Linked DNA regions of Homo sapiens. The protein of the gene in region 2 purifies or fractionates together with the protein of the main gene of each other region. This does not show direct contact. Each region holds a gene or a part of one and is shown on either strand. Other genes may lie near its edges. The genes, in order: CTBP1, ZNF217, EHMT2 and CTBP2.

Region 1 (7,809 bases), on a different chromosome or scaffold from region 2:
AGTGTGGAGACTTAAACCCCGGGGCTCCAGACGAACACTCTCCTGGGCTGCTGCCCTTTGGCTCTCACACTTTAAGACCTGGTTTTCAGCCTTCTGTTTGTCTCTGGTTCCTGTCACATCCCTGACCTCCTTGTGAGCTCAGCTCTGCATCAAGTTTGTTGTTTCTATCTTGTGCTCACAAGTTCTGTTCTGGGAGGCTTTTGGGGTTAGACCATCACAGGTAAAGACAGAAGGGGAAATCTACTTTTGCACCATTTCTAAGATCAATTTCTAGGCTTGTTTTCAGAACATTTGCCATCCCCCTCTGTTCTGGTTTGAATAATTGTCCCCTCCAAAATTCATGAAGTTTGATTGTCATTGTGATGATCTTGAGAGGTGGAACCTTTGAGAGGCGATGCAGCCACGAGGGCTTTGCCCTCCTGAATGGGCTGGTGCTATTATCATGGGAGTGGGCTTCTTATCAAAGGGTGGGTTCAGCACTCTTTTCTCTCTCTCTCCTTGCCCTTCTGCTATTCTGCGATGTGATGATGCAACAAGAAAGCCCTCACCAGATGCAGCCCCTTGAGGTTGGACTTCCCAGCCTCCAGAACCATAAGCCAACAAGCTTCTGTAAGCTGTCAGTTACCCAGTGTGCAGGAGTCTGCTATAGCAGCACAGAATGGATGAAGACATCATTTTGCAATCCTACAAGAAAGGTGTTCTTTTGTACTCATTTCATCACTGGCTAAACTGGACTCTGGATGGCTAAAGTAACAAGGCAGGTCTGTCTGCTTCCAGAGGACCTGTCCTGCTGCGGCGGTTCTGGGCTCCCCTGCGCTTTGTGGCATTTTACAGCTTGCAGTCATCCTGCAAGGTAGATGTTACTTCTCTTCCCATCTTATGGCTGAAAACCAAGCCTTACAGCAGTTATACAAGTTATGTGGCAGTTTTCAGCGATTGTATTAAAAAATATTTTAGGTAAACAATGTGGTGTATATACGCAATGGTATACCAGTCAGCCTTACAAAGGAAGACAATGCTACCATATATGACAATATAGATGAACCAGAAGGGCATTATGTGAAAAAACCCAGGCACAGAAAGACAAATGCTGCACAATCTCACTCACAGGTGAAATCTAGAAAAGCTGAACTCACAGAAGCAGAGGGTAGAATGGTGTTTACCTGGGGCTGGGGCCGGGCAGTGATGTTGGTCAAGGGATACATTTCAGTTACATTGGAGGAATATGTTCTAGGGATCTATAGTAGGACATGGTGACTGGAAAATTGCTAAGAGAGTAGATGTTAAGTGTCCTCACCACACCAAAAAACAAAAAGTATGTGAGTTAATGCATGTTAATTAACTTGATTTAGCCATTCCACAATGTATTCATACTTTAAAACAAGTTGTAAACAATATATACAAGTATTATTTGCCAATTAAAATACATACATTTAAAAATATTTTAGATATTTGTCCATTTTTGTTTCAAGTTTACTTGCTGGTCATTTTATTGTTAAAAAATTCTTGGTTGTTTTCGGCTGGGCACAGTGGTTCATGCCTGTAATCTCAGCACTTTGGGAGCCTGACGTGGGTGGATCACCTGAGGTCAGGAGTTCAAGACCAGCCTGACCAACATGGTGAAACCCCATCTCTACTAAAAATACATAAAATTAGCTGGGCGTGGTGATGGGTGTCTGCAATTCCAGCTACTCGGGAGGCTGAGACAGGAGAATTGCTTGAATCCGGGTGGCAGAGATTGCAGTGAGCTGAAATTGCACCATTGCACTCCAGCCTGGGCAACAAGAGCGAAACTCTGTCTCAAAAAATAAAAATAAAAATGACTGGTTTTTTTTTCTGTGTGTACATGACTGACAAGACCAGTGGTTTCCTTTAATACCTCATCGACGTTCCCAGGCACTTTTTGTATTTGAGGTGTGTGAAGTAATAGGTTGGCCCTTGTCTTGAGCGTGATACTGAACACACCGACTAATAAAATGGGGGCCTTTGGCTGCACACCAGGCGCTCTGGGTACTGATGAGCTCGCCCCCAACTCCATGCCAGGAATCAGAACGGTTGCCCGGGAGAGTCGGCAGAAAGAGGAGGAACCGGATGCAGTGATCTACCTGGTTTGTCCTGGTGTCCAGTAACTTGGAGTTCTTCTTTCACACGTGGCTGGCACAGAGGAGACACTCATAAATACCCGAGTTGAATAAAATAGTCCATTGACATGGAGTCGCATGAAGCAGCATTCGTCCATCCAAAACGCCGATGCTTCTTTAGAGTGGACTGAGTTTTCCCCCAATACTAGGTTGTCCCACGCGATGGACAAAAATAGCCCATGTGGCAACGGAGGCTGGCCGGGGGGACCTAATGCCCATGCCTCTGGCATTCCCACCAAGGTGACTGTCCAGTAGCTCCCAGGACAGCCCATCCGTGTAGGGCAAACGCCATGAGCCACTCCTGTGTGCAGGCACAGGGCAGGCCCAGGCACAGGGAGGCGGGTGGGCAGGCACACAAACAGCCAAACGCTGACCCTGGAGGGCGGTGGTCATCTGCTCATCACAGGGGAAAGACTGGAGGTGGGAGAGGCAGGTGCCACCCGCAGGAGTTGGGACGAGCTGTGCACACGGCTGGGCACACGCAAAGCTGAGCCTTCTTCGTGAGCAACACGGTCACATTTGGGTGTAGGAATCTTGGCTGGAGTTGCCCAACGTGGGGAGCAGACAGCTCTGCAGCCAGGACCCCAGTTGGAGAAGGCAGCGCTTGGAACAAGCCAGGACAGTGGACAGACGGGCCGGTGCCAAATAGAAGTCATGATAACGCGCTGACAAGCTGTGCAGACGAACACTGTGTGTAGACGGAGGCCATGGAGAGTGACGATGGGGAAGACGCTGGATCCCTGGCTGGCCTGCATCCCTCTCCGTTCTCAGTTGCCTGTGGAATTCCGGGGAGCTCTGCTCCAGCTACACTGCACATAAAAGTGCGCAGGAAGTGGATCCTGGAGAGGAACTGTTCTTCTGGACTGAGCTTGCTGCTCATGGCAGCCCCACCTGCAGGACCCAAAGCCTTATGTGATGTTTGCTGGACACTCAGCCACGTGGCTGCCTGTTGAGCTCTGCAAGTCCACGCGGGAGCCAGGAATTCCTCCCCAGAAGTCTCTCCATTATATTCACCACCCCCTAGTAAATCACAACCTGACTTGCTGCAGAGGATGGAGTGCCTGGGACTCGTCTGACCCCAGCTCCCCTGGGGAAGTGGGGGTGGTACGTCCCTGCACCCGGCCACGTGCTGCCTTCTCCTGGGCTGCCTGTCCATGCTGAGCAGACAGGAAAGTCCAGTGAGGTCCCTGCCTGTGCACTCCACCAACCACATCGTCCCTTCCCGGCAGCCTCACCTAGGCCCCTCCAGCTACGACCCCTTGTCCCCTGCACCGATGCCTGGCCTTGGAGGTTGCTGCTCATTTTTCTGGAATTTTTTCTTAGATCTCTGCAGGGCTGCCCCTCCCCCTACAAGGGCTCCACACGTGTTCCCTCCTTCATGACTCCCACTGGGCTTCCCCGACAGGGCCTCACCCTCCCCAAAGCTCTGGTGACACCTGCCAGGTTTCCTCCAGGCCACAGCTCGGCAGCCCGATCTTAGAACAGAACGTGGCACGCAGGGCAGGTCTGGCTGAGGGCCCAGCATTGTCAGCGGGGTTGGAGGTCTTCCCGGGCCTCGAAGGGGAGACGTAGGCTTCTCAGGGCAGCCCAGGACGCGTCCTCACGAACCACAGCGAAATTACAGCAGGTATCTCGCGGATAGGAGTCTGCATCATTCCGTCTCCATGCCGTGGTTTCTGAAATTATGCAACTATCTCGGCATTCCAGAGGGCTCAGAGTAGCCACGCGCAGAGGCCCTCCCCATGGGGTGGATGGAAGCGTCCACTCGCGGCGCGAGGAATATCCCTGGGCCCCTCGGGAGAGTCTGCAGGGGCAGCCCCTGGGTGAGCAGGCCCAGTGCGGCCTCTCCCTGAAGGGACTTTCGGGCCCTCCCGGGTCGGGGCTTCACCGGTAGCAGGCAGGGCTTTGATATTAATGCTTAAAGGGAAAGCAGAGCTGAGCTGTCAGGACGTTGGTTAGCTACAAACCCTACTCTTGTTAAAAGAGAAATGGGGTCGGGGAAGGGGTTCTCCAGCCCTGAACTTCCCGGGCCGGGCAGGACGCGGTCCCTCCAGGAGTCGGGGCTCCCCCGCCTGGGGACGCACTGGGGCAGGCGCGCTTCTCCTCTCGGGGTCCCATGTGCCGCCGGCTCTCGGACGGTAAATCAGGGCTCGGGTGGGGGCGATGGGGGGCCCGCGGCCTCGGTGCCCCTGGCCAGCCTCGGAGGCGCACGGGCCAGGCCGCGGGGCGAGAAGCGAGCGCGGGAGGGCGGCAGCTGGCGGAGCGGGAAGGGAGCGGGGCGGCTGCGGCTGCGGCGCGGAGGAGCGCCATTTACGTTCGGGCCCGCGCCAGGCGCTGACGTGGGCGGCCCTGTCTCGGCTTCCGGGCCCGCAGGGTCCTCGGGGCGGACGGCGCTCCCGCCAGCGGCGCTGAGTCCGGCCCGACCCTGCCCGACTTCCTCGGGGACAGGCGGTTTAGAACGTGCGGAACACCAGGCCCGGGGCCTCCGCCGGGCTGCAGCCCCGCGAGCTTCCCGCCAGGCTCCCGCCCCGCCCCGCCCCGCAGCCGCGTCCCGGCCGGGCGGGCCCTGAGCCGCCCGCGTGAGTCCGTGCGCCGCCCGCGCTGGGAACCAGGAGACCAACCGCGAGGCCCCGCCCGCGCGCGCCGCCGTGTCCCCGCCCGCGCGGTCGTCGGAGCGCGGCTCAGCGGCGCGGCGGAGACTCGGCACGGCGGCGGCCAGGCGCAGGCGGGCGGGCGGAGCAGCGGACGGCGCCGAGGCCGCCCCACGCGCCGGGCTCGCGGCGGCGCAGCGCGCCGGAGTGGTCGGGGCCCGCGGCCGCTCGCGCCTCTCGATGGGCAGCTCGCACTTGCTCAACAAGGGCCTGCCGCTTGGTAAGGCCGCGCGCGCGCGCGTTTCCGGCCGCGGGCGGGGGCGGGGCGGGGCGGGTGCCGCGCGGGCGGGGGGCGCGGGGGCGGACCGAGCGCGCGCCCGCGGGCCGCCGGCTTTGTGTGCGAGTGCGCGTGCGCGCCGGCGTCCGCGCGTGGCCGCGGTCGGGGGCGGGACCGCGGGAAGGGTCTTGCGCATGCGCGGGCCGCTGCGTGTGCGCGAGCGCCGCAGTCTGCTCTCCCCGCCCGCGGCCCGTGCAGGTGACACAAAAGGGCCTGTGGGCCTCTGGGCTGCCCCGCCGGACCCCCAGCTCCACCGACCCCAGCCCCGTCGGACCCGGGACGGCACCCCGGGTCCCGATCCCCGGCCGCTACCCCGTCCCCGGTCATGACCCCGTGGCTGGGCCTGCGGGGCCGGGATGGGGCGGGAGCCGTGCGCAGCTCGGGGTGTCCTGGGGCGCGCGCTCCCGGGCCACTCGCGGGAGCGCGCCTCCCGCGGGGAGGCCGCCGGCGACCGTGGCCGCGCGCTGTGGGGGAAGGGGACGGGGCGCGGGTGCCGGGTATGACCGTGGAGGAGGCCGCTGCCCTCAGACCGGGCCCAAAGCGCAGCCCCCGGCGGTGACGCGGGAGGGCCCGGGGTCTCCGTTCCCGCGAACTCCGCGAGGTCCCGGACCGGCCCAGCGCCCCCACCTGCCCTTGCCTGGGCCCGCCCAGGTCCCGGGGCGCCTTCCTCGCGGGCTGCGGCCGCGGAAGCAGGGAGCACGGGCGGGCGCCGGGCTTGCCACCATCGCCATCTTGCAGCGCCCGCGTCCTGGGCCGGCCCGAGCCGCTGCGCGGAGCCTCTCTTTCCCTCGACCCGGCTGCAAAGGCAGAGTCCGTGCGCCTGAGCCCCGGGCCGAGACTGGAGCGTTCTCTGGCGGCCTCCAAGGGCGCCGGTGTCTGGAAGCCCGGCCTGGGCCAGATCCCTTTTGCTGTCGTCTCCGTGATTGCCGGGACAGAATTCCCTTCCAGTGGGGAAAAGGGAAGGCGGTCGCGCCCTTCCCGGTGCCCTGAGTGGGGAGGTGAAACCCTGAGAGTTGGGGCAAGAGGGCCTGGAGCTAGGGCCGAGGCGGCGGGTGCGCAGGGTGTTCCGTTGAGCCCGAGCCCCCCCCCCCTCCCCGGCCTCTCCACCGTTTCTGTAGGAGCGCGGCAGGGAGCACACGTCCCTCGGGAAGAAAACGGCGCTGGCGGCTGGGCCCGCACCGCGGCCGTCCTCGCTGAGCTCCTAGCGCGTGGCCTTTGCGCGTCTGTGTACCCGTCTGCAGCTTGGGGCAGGGTTGGGGGAGAACCGTGGGGTAACTATTTGCCGTTGCAGCTGAGGATGACAGCTGCGGTTTGGGGGTCCCCCTTTCTGTGTCCTGGAACTTTGTAGGGCGTGGCTCTGCCCTGGGCCTCAGCACCCGGCCTCCCAGGTCTCCCCTGCCTGCCCGGGCCTGGCCACCTCCCTCTGGGGTCTGGGTTTGGCTCCTGGTTGGGGCTGTCGGCTCCGCAGACGCCTTTTGCTCTCTGTGATTCTGTTGCCCATCTTTGAGCACCTGCTTCCATACAGGCGTCCTCTGCAGAGCTCTGGGAGGGACACGCACTGGGGGTGGCATCTGGTCACTCCTGGGGGTGCCTCGTCCGCCTGCCCGGCCATTTTTGGGGTGTCTGCCATGTCCCCAACATGCACTTCTTCCTGTCAGCCTTGACCAGGGCAGCTGTTAGTTCTGAGAGGTGGGCGTGTGGTTGGGGATGTCAGCGAGTAGGATCTTCCCTTTTACTCGCTTGTCATTAACCTGAGAACGTGGCAGTGGGGGAGGAGAGGCTTGGCCCGGGGTGCACAGGACTGTGGGCTGGTCCTGTCCCTCTGATGAGTGGGACGAGCCTTGGTCCAGTCCTGTGGGCTTGGCGCAGAGCCGGCCCCCTGCCATGTCCTGGTGGGATTGGAAGTGCTGGCTCGTCCTGTCTGCCTCCCCCAAGGGCTGGGAGCCCCCCACTCTTTGGACATTTGTAGTGTAAGCAGACAGCAACTGTTAACCATCATTCTGTTAATAAATTTTTTCTGGAGGAACCCTGGACAGAAGTAGTCATGCTCTCCAGGAAACGGGCCCCAGGCTCGAGAGGCCCAGTCTCTTCCCTCGGGGCTTAGAGGTGGCCGTCAAGCCACACCTGGTTCCCCACCAGCCTGGCAGTTTTTCTGGTTTTTCTCCTCTGACTGTCACTTGCCCTCTCAACTTCCTGCGGCCAGTACCCCCAGAATGTGACCTGGTCTGAGCTGACGGTGGTGTCACTGAGCCAAGAGGCGTGTGGCTGGCACCACTAGTGTTGCTGAGAACTCTTCAGGCAGCACTTTGTGCCCGGCTGTGCCCTGGTGCTCCCCATGCAGTGCCCAAGTCAAAGGTGTGTGCCCTGTGAGGTGTTTACCCCGGTTGACTCTCCTTGTAGAAGGACTTAATGTTTCCCACTCCACTGGGGGCTGGAGAGGGCTCCATCCAGGTGGTGCTGACGGTGCAGGCCTGGCCCAGGGCCCAGGGGTGGCCAGGAGGTGGTAGAGGCAGCAGGCAGTGTCATACGGGTTCTGTGGTTGAACTGCATCGCCCAAGGGAACGCTGGTCGGAGCGCCGGGTGGAGCGCCAGGGTCCTCTGGTGGTCGCTGGATGTTGGTAGTTGTGGGTAAGAGCTCTGTGCCGGGAGTGTCTGGACCCCCGGGTCCTCCATTGTCAGCTGCAGTGGCCGGAGCCCACTGCTCTCCCCCGCACTGGGTCGTGGTAACCCACAAGGTGCC
Region 2 (3,296 bases):
GAGTCTCGCTCTGTTGCCCAGGCTGGAGTGCACTGGCGCAATCTCAGCTCACTGCAACCTTTGCCTCCCGGGTTCAAGTGATTTCTCATGCCTTAGCCTCTTGAGTAGCTGGGGCCACAGGTGTGCACCACCACACTCAGCTAATTTTTGTATTTTTAGTAAAGACGGGGTTTCGCCATGTTGGCCAGGCTGGTCTCAAACTCTTGGTTTCAAGTGATCCACCCGCCTTGGCCTTCCAAAGGGCTGGGATTACAGGCGTGAGCCACGTGCTGGCCTTAAAATTGTGTTTATAAGCCAGGCATGATGGCTCGATACTCGGGAGGCCGAGAGCTGGAGGATCAGTTGAGCCCAGGGGTTCAAGGCTGCAGTGAGCTGTGATTGCACCACTGCACTCCAGCCTGAGTGACAGAGCAGGAGCACATCTCAAAAAAAAAAAAAAGAAAGAAAACTAAAAAGTTAAATAAAACAAAATCAGAAACCAGAAACACAATAAACACTAAAACTCAAGATTGCAAAACACCAAATCTATATTTACACTTCCACATATAATAACATAACTTTAAGCTGAAATATATCATAAATAAAACAAGTAATGTCTACTGTTCGACAACTTAAGTATCAACAATTAAAATAAATCAAACTGGAATGAAATAAATACATAAACAAAAATCCAACGAATTGTACCTCTATTATATGTACTGTTGTCTCAAAGAAAAAAAAATATAAAACCAGTAGTATACCAATAGTTAATACTGATGGACACAAAAACATATTTTGAAGTACAAAGGGCTGTAGGAAAATAATTGGTATTTTTATACATTCAGAAATGTGGTTAAAAAGAGAAATCTGAAAGCCCAAAAAATTCCAGCATAATACAAATCGACTTGTTTTCAAATAGATTTGGTGATTCTTTTTTTTAAATACAGGTTTAAATTCCAGCCCTCTATTATCACATACCCCCTTTAAGATTTATGGTTCTAGTCACAGCAAGCTCTCTGTAACACTCATTGGATTAGGCAAAGATTGAGTCAATCATCTTGCAAATGTGTTAATCTTCAAAAATAGGCTATAAAAGTGCAAAACTATGAAAACAAAATCTAGATTATGTACATATGGCTCAGCTTGTGAACAGGAAAAAAGGTCAATAGTGTACACTTTCCTGATACAAAGCACTTCATTGCAATGCCAACAGACTGATCTCAAATGAGTTCTCCCTTGTAACACAGGAGCTAAGACTTCTATCAAGGAGGACATCTTACGTTGCATAATTTAAAAAAAAAAAATTTTTTCTAGGATTACCCTTGCTCTATGGAGAACAGCGAGGCCAGAAAAATGAACAGTGCAAATTTATTTTTGAAACAGTTTCTTAATAAAATATTTTGTGGTCACTAAGCCCATGTACTAATAAACTCAGCCATGGACAGCATATTAAAGAACAAAAGTTTAAAATATCTAGGAAGCCAGCTGGTGGCCATCTTCTCTAAAACCCAAATTGCATGTGCACTGAGAAAAATGTTACTGCTTCAAAACAACCAAAAATGGGAAAATAACTGAGGTCTAGAAACAGATTTTCTCTTTCTAGACTCCCAGCGGGCTCGGCCAGCAGTTCCTTATTCAAAATCAATGTGTCTATAATCAACTCTAGTATGTCCACAGTTCACCCAAATGCCAGATACATTAAGACTACCAAATACAAACCTAAAATGTTCCCCCCAAAATTTCCCTTAAAACTGTTCCCCAATACCTGCAATTCACAGATATAATTTAGCATTTTTGTTTTTATATACTAATTTAGGCAAAACCCCCCCGCCACTGAATCGTCCAACAAAAATGATTAATTTGACAGAAACAAATTTAAATAACTGCACATACAGTTTATGTTTATACAACGTGTGGCTGCTCTACAGAGAAAATGCTTGTCTGTAGACACACTCTCTTAAAAATCCTACAAGCCATCCCAACGCCCTCAGTCAAGGATCCTGGAGGTTCCAGGACAATCTGGAGAGGCGAGGAAGAAGGTGCCTTCCCCATCTGAGATGCTCAAAGTTGCGATAAAATGCTGCCAGCTTCCGAATGGCTGACCTCGATATCTGCAGCACATATCATAGAGGGTCAATACTTCCATTAACAATTTTAAGACAACAATAGATTTGGGTGGATTCAACATAATACAAAATCATTGACAGTTTAAAAAAAAAAAAACATACATTTTAAATGAAAGAGCACAATAGCAGAAACTGCTCCAAGTGATGAGCTGCATTAGAGAAAAGGAATACACACAGTATTTGAACAAGCAGGTTTACAACTTAGATATTTACAGATTTTTACCTGAGGTGCAAGCATTATATACTTTTCCCCCATCCCGCCCCACCCAACCCAAATGATTTCTTTTCAGCAGCGCTCAAGTATGCAAAAATTCCACTTCTTATTTGGTCAATTCTAAGAAAAATATTATTCAGGGACAAAATAGAGATTTCCAGTCCCCATGTATGTAAGTTCCAACTGTTCCAACTAGTTTGTATTGCTATTTGGTACAAAAGTTAACAGAACAACTTTACACAACTGTAGTGTTCCTTGCAGATTCCTCATATGTTTTATGTACAGTACAATCACAGCTTATTTCAGTAGCTTTCACCATTCGCTTCTCAAAGGATGAAGTAAAATTTAATTTCATGGGGAGTAAGCACTGACATCCACCAAGACCTAAGGAAAACAACATTTTTTAAATGATTAAGATCAAAACTGAATACAGTTTAGAAAATTCTTTCTTTAAAAAAGCGTAATACATAGAACCAAACTGACCTAGAAATGCAATGGGTTCTATTTGTTGTTGTTGTTTTTGAGACAGTCTCACTCTGTCGCCCAGGCTGGAGTGCAGCGGCACGATCTTGGCTCACTGCAACCTCTACCTCCCAGGTTCAAGCGATTCTCCTGCCTCAGCCTTCCAAGTAGCTGGGACTACAGGCATGCACCACCACGCCCGGCTAATTTTTTTGTATTTTTAGTAGAGAAGGGTTTCACCATGTTGGCCAGGCTGGTCTTGAACTCCTGACTTCAAGTGATCTGCCCGCCTTGGCCTCCCAAAGTGCTGCGATTACAGGCATGAGCCACTGCGCCTGGCCCTGGGTTCTATTTAAGTTCAACTTTTGCTATGAAAGTATTAGGAGAATGACTAACTAGATAATGCTGCGAACTTTGGAGCTACTTTTAGTAATTTAACTGAGATGACTTAACCAAGAATCAGAATTCAGTAAAAGGCAGTTGCCATGCACAAGAAAATCCCAGCTACTCAGGAG
Region 3 (8,014 bases), on a different chromosome or scaffold from region 2:
TTGCCCAGGCTGAACCGCAGTGGCGCGATCTTGGCTCACTGCAAGTGATTCTCCTGCCTCAGCCTCTCGACTAGCTGGGATTACAGGCGCACGCCACCACACCTGGCTAATTTATTATTATTATTATTATTTTAGTTAGAGACGGGGTTTGGACATGTTTACCAGGCTGGTCTCGAACTCCTGACCTCAAGTGATTGCCGGCCTTGGCCTCTGAAAGTGTTGAGATTATAGGCAAGCCACGCCTGGCCTACTGTTAGGATTACGCTATTATGTTATTATTGTTGTTAATCTCTCACTGTACCTAATTTATAAATTCAATTTTCCTTTTCTTCCCTATTCTTTACAAAATGAATTGCAACTATAAAAATTAATGTTTATCATAGTGAGAAAGGAAAGGTAGCTCATAGCAACCTGTGCTATGTGAAGCAGGCAAAATTGATCAGGCTCAGCGAGAAGTCAGCATGGAACGGTTAGGGCCCATGCCTGGAGGCAACTGCTTAAAGGCATTTTGTACCTGACTAGGGTGCTGCTTCACCCATTATCTTCATGTGCCTAATATCTGTGAGACAAAGAACAATGTATAGCAGATCAATAGCTTGTTATTCTAATGTAAACTGGTAAACAATTTAGGAACTGCCTCTTCTTTTCCTTTGTTATTTCTTCAATCTTTTAAAAAATTTTTATCTTTTTTTTTTTCTTTTTGCGGCTCCTTCCAGAGCAGGGCTAACTCCTACGCAGTGTGCCCAGAGTCAGCCTGTTTTTTTTCAATATCTTCACGTCATCCAATCTTCTTTTCCTTTAAAAACCTACTTGTGGGCTGGTTGTGGTGGCTTGCACCTGTAATCCCAGCACTTTGCGAGGTCAAGGCAGGAAGATTGCTGAAGCCCAGCAGTTTGAGACCAGCCTGGGCAACATAGTGAAACTGTCTTCAAAAACAAAACAAAACAAACAAAAAAACCCCTACTTATAACTGCTGCTAATCAGAGTGTATTTTCACGGCAACTTGAATCTTTGCTCCTAAAGGCTGTCCTCAAAACCTGACCAAATATACTTTACTTAATGTTAAGTTTGCCTCAGTTTTTTCCTTTAGGTCAACAATAGGTATGACCCAAGAACCCTAGAACTTGGTCATAAAGCTTCTGGTGCCCTTGTCACTTCCCTCCTCTATTATTTCTGTGGCCCTCATCTCCTTTCCCACTGGGATTCCCAGGAAAAACTTTACAAATAGAGCAGTGACAGATGAGTTCCCCAAGGGCTTGCTTTGAGGTAGAAAGGAAGAGTGGTTTGAAATTCCCTTACCTTGTCATTATCATAAGAGTAATTAAGACATTAACTATATAATTGACTCTTTAACATCAAACTTTCACCACCCAAGAATGTAAACTGCAGGAAGAGAGGAACCTGTCTGTTGGTTCACAGATCAAGCACAGCCTAATATTTGACACACAGCAGCCCCTTGCTTAAATATGTGAATGAGTAAATGGAGTAGAAGCCTTAAGTGAAACTGTAAAAGAGCTCACCAAAGGTTTATGGTTGATTATCCCATCTCTCCCATCCCACTCACCTGTCCATTTCCTGGTTTGGACATGGTTTTGCGGGCTCGGTGGACCTTGGGCTGTCCCTCTGGGCTCGTGGTGGCTGGAGGGGGTTCAGACCCTGCTGCTGCAGCTCCCTGGGCTCCTGGCATACTCAGTAGCCTCATAGCCAAACTCTGGACAGATGGAGGTGATTTTCCCGCCCCTGTCATTGACATCTTGGCCCGGCTAGGACAGGAACCCCCCTTGCTGGGGGAAGAGGGGAATGACTTTGTGGCATGGCCTAGAAAACAGGCAAGCAAAAGGCAAGATAAGAAAGAAGGCAAGAGTCAGAAATTTCCCACCAACCCCCCAGGCTACCCAGCCTCTCACCCAGCAGGATCCGGCCCCCACGGAGGTCCCCATCTCCCTCAAGATTCTCAGATTCATCCCCAATGAGTGGTGTAGCCCCTACAGGGGTGTCAGCCCCCTCATCACCAACAGTGACAGTGACAGAGGCTGGAGATGAGGGGCCAGCAGGCTCCAGGGAGTCGGGGGTGGCCTTGGGCAGGGTTTCTTCACTACGAGGGGTGTCCCCCAAAGAGCCATGAACTGTAGAGGAAGAGAAAAAGTTCAGAGCTAAGGGCTCAGGAGATCCTGTGTTTAGGGAAGGTGACGGTCCAATTGGGGCCCGTTTTAGCTGCACTCACCTCTCTCGGTGGCTCCTCTGGTTTCCTTCTCCAGCAGCAGCGCCCCCATCTCAGCGGGGGCCTCCCCCTGGGAGGGGAGACAAGGGACAGGAGGGCTGGTCAGCCCAGTAGAGAGTTGGGGGGTCCAGGATGCCTGGGCCCTGGGAAGAGAGAGTAGGCTCCGGGGCCTACCTCTTCCTCTGTGGGGCCCCCCCCTTCCGCGGCCTCGGCTGCCCGGAGGGGCCGCACGACCCCTCCCCCGGGCCCGCATCAACCCCCTCCCTCTCGGTAGACCCCGCATCTCTGGGGCCGAGAGAAGAGGAGGGGGAGGGGGCGGGGCCTCCGCGCCCCGGCCCCGCCCCCTCCTCCCGGCTGCACGCGCCGCTCCCCCTTTGTCCCCCAGGCCGCGGGGACCCCGGGCACCAACCCCTCCAGCACCCGCTGCCCCCCAGCCCGGTGGACGGCCCCTCGTGCCCCTCACGCGTGCTCCTGGGGCCCCGGCGCCCGTCGCCCACTCAGGGGCAGCCGGCGGCTGCACGCGCGCCTCCGTGCCCACTCCCCCCACCTCCCACACCCTGGTCCCCTCATCCGCCCCCGGTGCTGGCCCCCTGGATTGCTGCAAGTCCCGCCCGGGCCCCCCGGCCCCGTTGCACCCCCGGAGCATTGCACGGGCGCGCGCTTCCCCCGGGCGCGCGCGCGGGCATGCACCCGCCTCTCCCCCTCCCCTTCCGCACCTCGGCGGCCGCCGCCGCTGCAGCTCCCGCCGCCGCCGCCATCGCCGCTTGCGCTGGGGGCCGAGCCGGCGCGCGGCCGCCCCGGGTCACGTGGGCGAGGGAGGGAGGGCGAGGAGGAGCCTTAAAGGAGCCGCTACATGCTTTTTGGCCATTTTCCCCTGAGAGCGGCCTCGGAGATGGCTGTGACTGTCCTAAGCTGGGAGCTGCAAGGGAGAATTCCTGTCATTCCTGGCCTCAGTTCTGCAGGGACCGAGGGCGAGACACGCCTGGGCCCAGGTGTGGCGTCTCTGTCCCCATCTGGTTTTAGGTAACAAGCGGAGCTTCTGAACTTCTCGGCTCTCGGCAGCGGCTGTATTTCCTCTGGCCTGGTTGGGCTTTTCCCGCCTCTGGTTGCTTTTCTGCCTTTCTAGTTTTTGGGTTACCAGATAGAAGGCTTGGCCTCAGTTTTGGCCTCGCCTTTTTGCTCTTTCTAACGAGCACGAAGGGGCGATAGGGACGCGGAGGACACCTTTATTCTTGGCTGGTTCTAGCATGCTGCTTCATGTCCCCTGGAGCAGCGTGCCCTTCTGAAAACCTGTGGCTAAATGTCTCTTCTGTTTATATCAGGCGTGTTACACCTTCACACGCACTAGGGATCCAGGTAAGCCCAGCGGCCCGAACGTCATTACTGACTGGTGACACTGCAGTAAGTAAACCTTTTTTGCCGAACACTTCATAAGCACAGTCAGGTACTCCGTGGGTCATAGCCCAGCGGACAATTTAAGTATAAATGATATACACCAAGATAGACAATCTCGATAGCTGTATTTAGGGTACCATCCCTTTAGGTATTACGTTTTGGTCGAGTTTGGAAAAGATCTGTATGATTTCACACGCAGTATTTGACACAGGCAGGTGGGGCACCTGAGGCCAATTAAAGGCCTTCTGGGAACTGTAGTTCTCTTTGGTTAACTATTCCAGAGCTTTCTGGGAATTGTAGTTTTCCCTGCACCTTAATCCAAACTTAGCTTTTTTTTTTTTTTTTTAGCTTTCCTGAAGACATGACCTATTTACCCCAGACAAAATATGACCAAACAGACTCCTGCTTACAATTTCCGTGGGCAGGTTGGCCACCTGTAGCTCATCCCTAGCACTGATCCTAAGTCCCTCAAATAGAGTTCATGTGCATCCCCACGACTGCCAATCACTTGTACTGTGAGGTACCTGGCTAAGTGTTGAGATTGCAGAACTGGTGGAGGGCTGGGGGTGGGGACTTGGGGGAGTCCCTGACCAGAGGAGCTCACTTGTCACACTCCTCTCCCATGTTTAGGGCTGGGCTCCTTCAGGCAAGGGATATGCAGAGTTGTGACCTCTAGGTATTAAGAACGCAGCATCACAGGGAGAGGCTGTCTAGGGCAGGATAGTCATGTACACGCAGTTGCCAGAGTGTAAAGGAAAAAAAAAAGTTTTTTTTTGTTTTTTATTTTGTGGAAAACAAAAGCAGAAAAACTAAAACCCCAAACTCCAGAAAAAATCCTAAAAAATATGTTTTTTCTTAAAAAATACTGTATGTCTCTACTCCTCTCCCTCCCTCCCAACAGCCCTTCTTGTGTTCTTTCTTTTCTAAGTGCCCTATCCCCCCCACCCCCATGACTATCCATTGTTTCTTGCTATTGTACCCCCACTTCCCAATATCTACCCAGGATGCGCACCCCACGTTCTCTTACCTGGCGTCTTACTTTGTTCTCCCTCAAATTTCAGCAAGCCTCATACTCGCAGTCTCATTTCCCCAGCATGCAAGAACTGTCTCCCACTTCCTTTTCTGGGACTCAGTAATCTTTTCCCCTTACCACTCCCTCACCCCAGGTCTATTCTAAGCAGGAGCATGTCCTCCTGCCAAATTCCCTCCCTGTTCCCACCCACCCCCCAACCCTTCTTATCTCGAGAAATGTCAGAACCTTCCCCTGGGCAGCCTTAGCCAGGAATAAAACATTTTTGTCTTCCCTCATTCTATAGGACCCTTTTCCCTCCCTCCACATATACATGCACTTCTAAGAGAAGGAAATCTTTCTCTGGGACCCCGTATTCCCCTGGCCTCCAAGAACCCTTTTCCCAGCTCCAGATTCTTGCACTCTCAAGAGCAAGTCTCTCCAAGGAATCATCTTCCCTCTCTCAGGATGTGTGCATCTGCTCAGCCTCCCACTCTTACCTTTCTGCCCCAGACCCCCCACCCCCCAATTCTCCTGGGCCAAAGAGCCCTTTTTCCACGCAGCCCAGGGGCCCCAGCCTCCTGGCCTCCACGCCTGCGCGGCTAGCGGATGAGGACGTTAATCTCGGCCACACTGGCCTCCAGCACGTTCTCGGCCGTGGTCTTGCCGTGTTGCTCCTTGAGGTGCCGCCTAATGGCAGGCTTGTGGGCGAAGCGCACGTCGCAGTAGGAGCAGCGGTAGGGCCGCGCTCCCGAGTGCAGGTTGAGGTGGTCGTGAAGGGTGGACTTCTGTGTGAAGCACTTGCCGCAGATGCCGCACGAGTGTGACTTGACACCACGATGCACGTTCATGTGGCGGTTGAGGTTGCTGCTGTGGTTGAACTGCTTGCCACAGCGAGGGCACATGAAGATGAAGTGCTGCGCCCGCATGTGGAAGACCAGCTTCTCCACGCCCTGGAACACTTCCGGGCACTTGGTGCACTTGATGTTCTTTAAGGGGTTTCCACCTGAGAAGCCCCCAGGCAGGGGTCCCCGGCTGCCCCCCGCCCCCAGGCTGCCCCCCGCCCCCCGGGCAGCCATGGCCACCGCTGCTGCTTCCACCAGGCCCGAGGTGGCCCCCACGCTGGCCCGGCCTCCGGGAATCAACAGCAGGCCCTCCCCTTCTGCATCTTCCGACAGGCTATAGCAGGCCTTCACCACACCCTGCGGTGGGGCTACAGTGCTGGGGGGAACGCTGCTCTGGGCCAGCTCCCCAAGGTGGCCACCCACGGAGCCTCCAATGCCCAGACCCCCTCCCAGGCCTCCAGGGGGTTTGAGCCGGTGTGCCACCTCCAGGGCCGACTCCACCTTGACGATGCAGATGTCAGACACGTCCTCATCCTCATCCTCATCCTCTTCCTCGGCTTTCAGCTCCAAGTCTTCATCCAGTGGGAACTCCAGCTTCACTGGCCGCAGGAGTGGAGGGGGTAGAGGAGGTGGGGGTGGGGGCTTCGGGGCTGGCTTTGGGGTCCTGGCTGGAGGGAGGAGGGACTTGGTGGCGCTGATGCTGCTCACAAGGCTAGCCTCACTGACCCCATCCTCTTTGAGGCCTATTTTGGGCTCAATGAACTGGCTGAGGGCATTCCGGCATTTCTCCACCACGTGCTCCATCTGCAGGTAGGAGGCGGCTGTAAGGTAGTTGACGATGTCCCTAACAGCGAATTCCAAGGCGCCCGTGTAGCAGGAGAGGAGCAAGTCGGCCACGATGCGTGCACTGTGCATCAGGGAGACCTGCAGCTCCGAGCTGGGGTTCAGCAGGAACTGGTCCCGCAGGAAGGGTGAGCAGGCGGCCAAGATGACCTTGTGGCCTCGAAACTTGAGGCTGTCGGCCACAATGGTCACGTCGCAGAACCGCTCCTCTGCCCGGAGCTGGTTCATGTTCCGTAGCGTTGCGGCCTCGTGGCCGGGCAGCTGGAAGCGCAGGACTTCCACCCCAGAGGCCATTGTGGCGGGGGTGGGCAACCCTGGTTGGGAAGGAAACCGGTCAGAGACAAAGGTCTCTGGCTCTCCGAAGCCAAGGCTCCAGGACCCTCGCCCCCATTCTTGCCCAGCCCCCCGGCATCCGATCTCCCGGTCTTCAGATTTCTTCCTCAGTTTCCCCAACCCTGGGGAGGTGCTGTCCCTCTGAGAGGAGGGAGGCGTGGTTCTCGGGGGCGGGGCAGCGGCGTCCACACCCCCCAGCCCAGCAGCCCGCTAGGATGGGGCGAGCCCGCGCGCCCACGGTGGAAGGACGGAGAAAAAGGGGGGCCAGAGGCCTGGGGCTCTGGACTCCAAGGTGGCCCCGGTTGCAGGCTCTTCTCACCCCGCCCCCTTTACCGGCTGCCTCATTCCTCCGCCCCCCCCTTACACGTTTGCACGCGCTTTTCACGTCCTCCCCCCCGCCGCCAGCACGCACCGTGCACGCCCTGCCCCCACGCTCAGAGCTCCGTGGCACGCCCCCCCAGCCCCACGACCCTGAGTGCACGCTCCTCTCACCTGGCCCGGTTCCGCGCGCTGTTTTTTTAATCCCTTATTTTCCCCACCCCCCCCCGGGGCCGGCAGCGACCCCCACACACGGGCAGGGCCTGGGCAGCGCGCAGGCGCGGGGATGCACGGGACGCGCGCGCGCGCGGGGCCGGCTCCGCGTGGGCGTAAGGGGGGAGGGGCGGGGGCGGCTCGTGCCGTGTGTTCCAGGCCCCGCGCGCGCGGCGGCGGCGGCGTCGGCTAGGACTCGGGGAGGAGGAAGAGGGGAGGGAATTAAAGGAGCAGGATCCCCCCTTCCCGACCCCCCTTTCTTCACCAGCACCCCCACGCGGTTAAAGGGCCGGACGGCCTTGCCTCCTCTTTGGCCGGGATTATTTGTCCGCCAGAGCGGAAATACGTTCCACACCCCCCTCTTTCTCGCTCCCCCTCCTCTGTACCTCCAAGCCCCGCGGCCAGTTTGCGCGTGCGTGCCAAGTGCCGCGCGGAGGCCCGCTCACTCGGGCCCGCCCCCCAATCCCGGCTGCCCATGGCGCTACTCGCTCCGCGTCCCCGCGCCCCGCCCGCGCCGCATCCCGCAGCGCGCGCGCGCACCCGTTCTCTCGGCTGCGGGCGCTGCCACCTGCTCCCAGGGGTGGTGCGTCTCCGGTCCAGCTGTGCCGAGCGCTGCCCTGGGTGCATCCGTGGCACCTCTCAGGGCCCCATCCGCCCCGTGGCTAACAGAGCTGTTGGTAGCTATTACCCACGCCTGCCTCCTCTGCTGAGTGTGCTCACAGTTGCTCCAGACACATTCCCAGGCTTTTCCAACTCTTGTAAAGCTAGTAACCGCCTCAGCCCTTCAGGCCTGAAATATGATTTCACTTTCCACAAAGCCAGACGATCCAGTGCCCT
Region 4 (7,553 bases), on a different chromosome or scaffold from region 2:
TGCCCGGCCGAGCCTAGGATTTTCAATGCATAGTTGGAAAGGGCCATGGCATCTATAAAAGCAATATGTATTCACTGATTAGAATTAATTATGAATCACATAGTGATTATATTATAGCCAAAGAGAGCACTGTTATTCTATAAAACATTGCAACAAAATTCCCACATCCACTGAGGACAGCAACTGAGAGCTTCAGATAATTGCGGTTCTGAAGTGAGCTGAACCCTGAATAACAGAGATAGGTGAGTAACAATACAGTTAAGTCCAACTCCCAGTAACTCTCGCTGCACAGACCCTTGAAATACTCAAGTGCACACAACTAGTCCATTTTATTGCACAAAACAGTTCCGATAAAAGGACCCACCATTATCTAGGGCCACTATCTTTTTTTTCTACAACCATTGGTTCCTGGAAATGAAATAGGAAAGATAGGAAGCTGAGAAATAAGAACCTCGGTTAGAGGTCTTTGATTGTAGCGGGGGAGGCAGGCTGTGATGCAGCCGCAGGCCGGTCCCACGGGCCTTTTTCAGCCCCTGGGTTCCTACAGACATCAGAAGTGCTCCCGAGGAGGTATAAAGTAGGGAAGGAATTATGCCATCCTGTTTAAAGGCTGCCAGACGGAAGAAAATAAGTGCCTTACAAACTCAACGCTCCACACTGGGGCTGTGGATCTCTCTTTTCTTTCACTACTTTTTTTTTTTTTTTTTGATGGAGTTTCACTCTTGTTGCCCAGGCTGGAGTGCAATGGCGCGATCTTGGCTCACTGCAACCTCCGCCTCCCAGGTTCAAGCGATTCTCCTACCTCAGCCTCCCCAGTAGCTGGAAATACAGGCACGTGCACCACGCCTGGCTAATTTTTAGTATTTTTAGTTTCACCGTGTTGACCAGGCTGGTCTCAAACTCCCGACCTCAGGTGATCTGCCCACCTTGGCCTCCCAAAGTGTTGGGATTACAGGCATGAGCCACTGTGCCAGTCCAAGGGTTCCCATTTCTCCACATCCTCCTCAATACACGTTTTTTTCTCTTTTGTTGATAAAAGACATCCCGGTGGACATGAAGTAGTAACTTATCGTGGTTTTGATTTGCATGTCTCTAATGACCAGTGAGGCCAACCATCTTTTCATGTGCTTACTGGCCGTTGGCCATTTGTCTACCTTCCTTGGAGAAATGCCTATTGAGTCTTTGGCCATTTTTGAATTGGGTTTTTTGTTTGCAACATCTTAAAAAAAATAGTATGAAATAATTCACATGTTGGGGGCAAATGAGCTCCATATTTTAAAATGCAGGTAAAGTGAAGTGAGAAATACTTTTCAGCTCTCAGGATGCCTTGCTTTTAATGTCTTCAAAACAAATAATATATTAATAATACTTTCTCGGCCGGGCACAGTGGCTCACGCCGGTAATCCCAGCACTTTGGGAGGCCAAGGCAGGCGGATCACAAGGTCAGGAGATAGAGACCATCCTGGCTAACACGGTGAAACCCTGTCTGTACTAAAAATACAAAAAAAAAAATTAGCCGGGCATGGTGGCGGGCGCCTGTAGTCCCAGCTACTTGGGAGGCCGAGGCAGGAGAATGGCTTGAACCCGGGGGGCGAAGCTTGCAGTGAGCAGAGATCGCGCCACTGCACGCCAGCCGGTGACAGACTGAGACTCCGTCTCAATAATAATAATAATAATTATACTTTCTCTTTTTTTTTTCTTGAGACGGAGTTTCGCTCTGTCGCCCAGGCTGGAATGCAGTGGTGCAATCTTGGCTCACTGCAACCTCCACCTCCCTGGTTCAAGCGATTCTGCTGCCTCAGCCTCCCGAGTAGCTGGGATTACAGGCATGCGCCACCAGGCCTAGCTAATTTTTGTATTTTTTTTTTTTTAGTAGAGACGGGGTTTCACCATGTTGGCCAGGATGGTCTTGATCTCCTGACTTCGTGTTCTGCCCCGCCTTGGCCTCCCAAAGTGCTGGGATAACAGGCGTGAGCCACCGTGCCCGGCCAAGAACATGTTAGTAATACTTTCTAAGTCAGAATTCAAATTTATAGAACACGTGAAAGTGAAGGAGTGATATGGAAAATCAGGCTTTTTGTGGTTTCTTCCTGAGAAAAGAAGACCACTCAGAACCAAAGACTTCTGTGAAATAAGGAAGCAGAAAATCTTTATTTGTAGTTCTTATAGTTTATGCCTAAGAAACTCCGAAGAACAGGTACTGGTAACCCGGTAGCCTGGCGGTGGCCGCGGTTTGTTTACAGCCAAAAACTAGCTGAGGCGCCATGCCCTTGAGGCAAAACTGCTGAAGAGAGAAGCACCCTGAAGATCAGTTTGTGGAGATCCAGGGTTGCCAGAAGACGAGACAACCGTGATTGCATGTGCGGAGGTTCCTCGATGGAAGCGCAGCCCGGCGCGCCCCTCAGCTGGCCTGGCCAGGCCCTATGAAGGTCACGCGAAAACCCTGCTGCGGGCTTCTTAGCGACCGCATTACGTGGACTAGCGGGCAAGAAAAGCCTGGTCGGCGCTGCCCTCACAGGTAGGCGGTCTTCAATCACGTTTTAAAATCTTGTTGAGTGATTAAGCAATCTTCGATAGTCCCGGCCCCTCCACTGCAGGCCGCTCAGGCCGCAACGCACCTGGTGCGCTTTGGCAAACAAGCCCCGCGGCGGGCTGGGGCAGGATTTAAGAAATGTTTAATGAAGACTGGGAGGCCTGGAGCAACGCTCTTTGGGATGCAGAAAAGGGTCGTGCAGCTCGGTGGCCTCTCCTCCGGCCCCCTGGCCCTGGCTGTAAGTTTCCTCGGCTCTGCAGGGCGCGGGGCACTCAGGGATGGAGGAGACCACACCGCGCGGCTGGGTTCGCGGAATGGCGGTCCCTGCGGCCTCCAAAGGCGGGACCTCAGACCCCTCCCACTCCTTTCCTGCTCGACATCTCAATCCAGCTCCTAATATCTCAATAGGGTTTTTAAACAAATCGATCCTAAGGGCTCAGTTCAGCCCACCCAGGGATTCTTGGAGGACGCACGCCGAACTCAGGGTAGTGAGAAGAGTTTGGGGGGCCCTGGGGCGCAGGGAGAAGACCCCACACTCCACGGCCACCAGCTCCCTTCCGGAGACGGCGCTCGGACGTCGCGGGTCACGGGCGGGGAATTTAGCCCAGGTGCTCGTTGGGCCGCGAGCGGCCGCTGGGCCTGGATTCCCAGGCTCGCTGTGCAGACTCCAACCTTGAGACGTCAGGACGGCGTGGGCTCCGGGCCGCCGCGCAAGCCCAGGACCCCGAGTCGCGGGCCCCCACGCCGCAGCGCGCCTCCCTCCTCGAGACCCGGGGCTCCGACCCAACACAGGGCTTCTCAAATGCCCCGGCGAGATCCAGGCAGCAAGAGGGAACCTTTTTTTTTTTTTTCAATGTGTAAGAATGTTTTGCTTCTTTTAGGGCACAGCACTGCTGCAACTTGCAGCACAGAGGGCCCTTCCCTGCGCACCCACAGCGGTCGCCGCCTCTCCGGCACGGTCTCCCGGATCTGGATTTGGGGAGCGCAAGTGCCCCCTGTGGCCGGCCCGCGCCTGACCCCGCGGGCCTGAGAAGGCAGAAGCGGCCGGTGCGGGGCACCAGGAGGAAGTTGGAGCCCGGGGGCCGGGAAGGGGGCTGGTTGGCGCCGCTGGCTGGGCGGGGCCCCATGGGACCGGGGCCACCCGGGGCTCGCGTTCCCCCACGTGGCCGGCTGCCCGGTACCCCACGTGGAAGGGGCGGAGGAGGATGAAGGGCCAGGGGAGCAGCGGACCCCGAGCCACCGCGACAGGACCTCGGCCCCTGCCACCGAGGCCCCCGCGCCTCCCGAGGGCCTCCCGGGCGGGGCCGGGCTAGGGAGTGCCCGCCGCGCCCGGCCCCTGGCCCTCCCGCCCGCCGCGCTTGTGTGCACTTTCGCGGAGCCACTAATCCCCCGAGAGAGCCGATTTGTAGTGAGGAGTATCTGAAGGGGGCGAGGCCGGCCCATGTGGGGTTGTGTCATTGGTTTGCAAAAAGAGACCCCGCCTTTGCCCCCCCCCCCCAAAAACAGGAGCGAGGAGTGAGCGAGCGGCGACCCTCACCTCGCCTCCCGCCTAGCTCCTGCGCAGCCAGCGGGTACCGGGAGCTGCGGCCAGCGCCGCTTCTTTCCTTTCCTTTTCTCTCCGTTTTCCTTCTCCTTCCCCGGAGGAGAAAACAAATAAAGAAGAGCAAATAGCCGGGAGGCGCTCGGCATCCAGGACGTTCCCTCCCCCGATCCAAGTTGGAATTAGCATCCTCTCGGGGGTGAGCGCGGCGCGGGGCGGGCCCGGGCCGGGGACCCCCAGCGCAGCCCCCTCTCGGCGGGCGGGAGGGCGCGGGGCCGGGACGCGGGGGGAATTGGGAACCGGGTGGGCGGAGGAAGGGGGTGGGGTGGGTGGGGAAGTAGGAAGAGGCTCGGCGGCGAGGGGAGGAGGTGGAAGGGAAGGGAGGGGTAGGGTGGGGAGGGGAGGGGAGCGGAGGGAGGGTGGGGAGGGCGGGAGGGGGAGGGGCGGGGAGCTGGAGAGATTAAGTTTTTGTGTGTGTGTCCCTGTGTGCGTGTGTCATTTTAAGGTGGCTCGGGAGCGGCCCGGAGGAGCCGGCGGCGGCCCGAGGAGCGAGGGACCGAACCGGGAGCCATGCCGCGCTGAGGGGGGGCCGCACAGCCGCCGCCACCGCCACCGCCGCCGGGTGGGGTGGGAGGGGCGGGAGACGCCGCCGCCGCCGCCTCCAGGGTGGGCGCCTTTCGCCGTGGACGCCGACCGTCCGGGACGAGGTAAGGGGGGCCCCGGGGGAGGGCTGGGGCCGCCGCCGCCCCCGCCTCACCTGCGGCCGCGGGCTGGGGGCGCCGCGCCCGCGCCTCACTGCGCCACTCAGGGAGGAGGAGGAGGAGGAGGAAGAGGGCGAAGGACGCGGAGCCGGCATCCGAGGACATCTTTGGTCCGTGCCCCCGGCCTCGTGTCCCCCCTCGGCGCCCGGGGGTGGACGCTGGCTCGGGGGTCCCCGCCCGCCCCCGCCACCGATTGCGCCCGCTGGCCGCCGTTTGCGCCAGGATTTTTGTTGTTGTGATGAGAGTTGATGAATGCGAAGTAGGCGGTCACCTTCCTTCCCATCAGGGTTGAAAAAAAAAAAAAAAGAAACCCCGAGCGCGGCGGCGTCCGGAGGGCAGCGGCGGCGGCGGCGGCGGCGTCTCGGCGACGGTTCCCTGGGCGCCCCCGGCTCCTGCTCCCTGAGCCCGGTGGGTGCGCGCCCGGGGGCCGCCGGCGACCCAGGCCGAGCGCGCGACGCGCCGCGGGGACAATACGGCCGGATCTCCGGGGAACAGGAGTCCGAGCGCGCCGGGGTGCGGCGGGCCTTGCGCCTACGAGGCGAGGGTGGGGGGGGCGCGGAGAAGAGGGGTTCCGTGGGGAAGTCGGGGCGTGAGCGGCTCTCGGTCCCCAGGGGCGCTGCCCCTGCCGGCGGGGGATCCCGCGCGGCTCCCCGGGAGCGCAAGTGAAAGACGGGAAAGGAGGCGAAGTGGAACCCTTTTGTTTTGCCGGCCCCGCATTGTTGGCTCCTCCGGGCAGCCGGGCCACATCTGCTGCCGCTGCCGCCGCCGCCACTGCCGCGCGGGGCTCGGCCCGCCAAAGTCGCGGCGGGGCGGGGGGCCTGGGCGGGCCGGGCGGCGGGCGCGGGCGGGGGCCGGGCGGGCCGGGCATTTCCTCTGCCCGGCCGCGCTCCCGCGGGCACCACTTCCTCCTCGCCCGCCGCCGCCGGGAGCCCGGCCCGCCCGCCTCCCCCACCTTCCCCGCCCGGGCCGCACTTTTCGGGTGGGGCGAATCAAAAAGAAAAAGTTTAGCAGGAGGGGCTGGCTAGGGCGCGCCCCGGGCGGCAGGGACCCGGTGCGGCGCAGGGACAGCCGGGCCGCCGCGGTTCCTCCTCCTCCCAGCCCTCCGCGGCGCCGGACGGCCCCGCGCGGCCGAGGGGAAGCGCCTTTCTTTCTCTCCCTCGCGCTGCCCCCAGCGCCCCGGGCGAGTTGGGCAGAGGCGCGCGGGAGCCGGGGCGTGCCTGGGCCTTTCTCCCGCGGGAGGCCCAGCGGCGTGGCGGGTCGCCTGCAGCCCACGCCGCGCCCTGGGGCTCGGAGGCCGCGGGCCCAAGAGCTCAGCTCGGTCACCGCGGGCCGCGCCGAGACACACACGCGCGCACACACTCCCTCCCGTGGCTCGCTTTCCGCCGGCGACGACGGTCGCGGACACGGAGTGAGCGTGTGCGCGCGAGTGTTTGTGGTTGTCCCCCCTCCCCCCGCCCGGTACTTTTTCCGGAGGCGGCCCAAGCGGCAGTTGGCTGCAGAGGACCCCACGTTTAGGATTTTATAGGGAAGAGGAGGAATTTTTCGTAGAAATCCCCGCTCTGCGTGCTCGTGGTGGAGGCTGCTGGCAATGGCCTACGTCGTCATACCGGGCTTCCTTGCCCTGTCCGGGGTAAACAATCCTTCTGTGTATTTACCCCCTTTTTTCTTTAAAGATTGGAGATCGGGTTAAGTTCTTAGAGAGTCTGATGCGAGTGGCTGGAAGGATAGACAAGAGAATTCTATTCTATAAATATGCATTGGGAATTTAAAATGCTAAACGCCTTATTTGCAATTCTGTTGGATATTCTAGAGACTGGTATATTTTTATCTGACATGGATAATTTTGAGGGGACGTTATATTTTGGGGAAGTTTACAAAGTGATTCTTTCTGCCTTTCTAACTTGGGCGAAATATATCGACTCATACCACCCTTTCAAAAAAGATAGCTTTCTCTACTAGGTGTTTGGGTTCGAAGACAGTTTAAAAATTACCTCGTGTTCAGTACCTAAGATTGCTGTTTTGCCTCGAGGGTTTTCCAAGTAGAAGTGGGTAGTTTTCATGTACTTTGAGAATTCTGAGGTTTTTAACCCCCCCCTTTTTTTTTAAATATAAATCTTTTCTATTTTGAAGTAATGAGACTTTAAAGGATCTTGTTTTTGTAATCACTTGATTTCAAAGGATACTTCTTACAGCAATTATAAAGTAATAGTCAAAATGCTAATTAGACATTTTCAGTCATAGCTGCTTTAATGTTGAAACAGAATTTTTTTCTTTAGCAGAGACTGTATCGTAGAGTTGAAACGCTAAATATTCTTTTGTCTGGCATCAGATCTCTGAACTGCTCTGACATTCTCCTGAAAAACCCCTAGTGCCCTTTTTATTGCCCCCAAAAGAAAAGTTAATGAGATGGTAGATTTCAAGCAAAAAAACAGGCCCTCTTTCTTGCAAAATATGCTTACAGTTGCCATTGAAGTTGGATGTTAGCCGTGAATGCACTTGCCTTTAATGAAACCAGTTTAATCGTTCACACTTGATCAAGTATAACATGAGCAAACAAAGGAAATAAGCCAGCATATTTCTGTAGAGTGTAAGTGTTGATGTTGGGTCACCCCCTCCCCCTACCCTGCCCCCCTGTAAAAGGGAGAGAGGGTTGAAGGCAAAGGGAATTTATGGCGCTGATTGGTTTTTTGTGCCCCAGGGGTAGGGGACCCCAGTTACA

The links.
Region 1: the proteins of ZNF217 (region 2) and CTBP1 purify together in Homo sapiens (affinity purification with mass spectrometry; 12 studies listed by BioGRID and IntAct, with this or other methods). This does not show direct contact.
Region 3: the proteins of ZNF217 (region 2) and EHMT2 purify together in Homo sapiens (affinity purification with mass spectrometry; 2 studies listed by BioGRID, with this or other methods). This does not show direct contact.
Region 4: the proteins of ZNF217 (region 2) and CTBP2 purify together in Homo sapiens (affinity purification with mass spectrometry; 7 studies listed by BioGRID and IntAct, with this or other methods). This does not show direct contact.

What each region holds. Positions count from the first base shown.
Region 1 is NC_000004.12:1,246,119-1,253,927, reverse strand, and holds the start of CTBP1 (C-terminal-binding protein 1), read left to right. Parts: upstream 1-4,797; 5' UTR 4,798-4,972; coding exon of another isoform or gene 4,973-5,012; intron 5,013-5,199; exon of another isoform or gene 5,200-5,720; intron 5,721-7,809. UniProt on the Homo sapiens protein: Corepressor targeting diverse transcription regulators such as GLIS2 or BCL6. Has dehydrogenase activity. Involved in controlling the equilibrium between tubular and stacked structures in the Golgi complex.
Region 2 is NC_000020.11:53,566,562-53,569,857, forward strand, and holds the end of ZNF217 (zinc finger protein 217), read right to left. Parts: intron 2,704-3,296; coding exon of another isoform or gene 2,555-2,703; 3' UTR 510-2,554; downstream 1-509.
Region 3 is NC_000006.12:31,894,699-31,902,712, forward strand, and holds the start of EHMT2 (histone-lysine N-methyltransferase EHMT2), read right to left. Parts: upstream 3,001-8,014; 5' UTR 2,980-3,000; coding exon 2,938-2,979; exon of another isoform or gene 2,868-2,937; coding exon of another isoform or gene 2,292-2,867; coding exon 2,225-2,291; intron 2,127-2,224; coding exon 1,908-2,126; intron 1,819-1,907; coding exon 1,565-1,818; intron 1-1,564. Other genes in the region: ZBTB12 (zinc finger and BTB domain-containing protein 12), read right to left, coding at 5,228-6,607. UniProt on the Homo sapiens protein: Histone methyltransferase that specifically mono- and dimethylates 'Lys-9' of histone H3 (H3K9me1 and H3K9me2, respectively) in euchromatin.
Region 4 is NC_000010.11:125,157,546-125,165,098, reverse strand, and holds the start of CTBP2 (C-terminal-binding protein 2), read left to right. Parts: upstream 1-4,535; 5' UTR 4,536-4,780; intron 4,781-5,141; exon of another isoform or gene 5,142-5,242; intron 5,243-6,321; exon of another isoform or gene 6,322-6,464; intron 6,465-7,553. UniProt on the Homo sapiens protein: Corepressor targeting diverse transcription regulators. Functions in brown adipose tissue (BAT) differentiation. Isoform 2 probably acts as a scaffold for specialized synapses.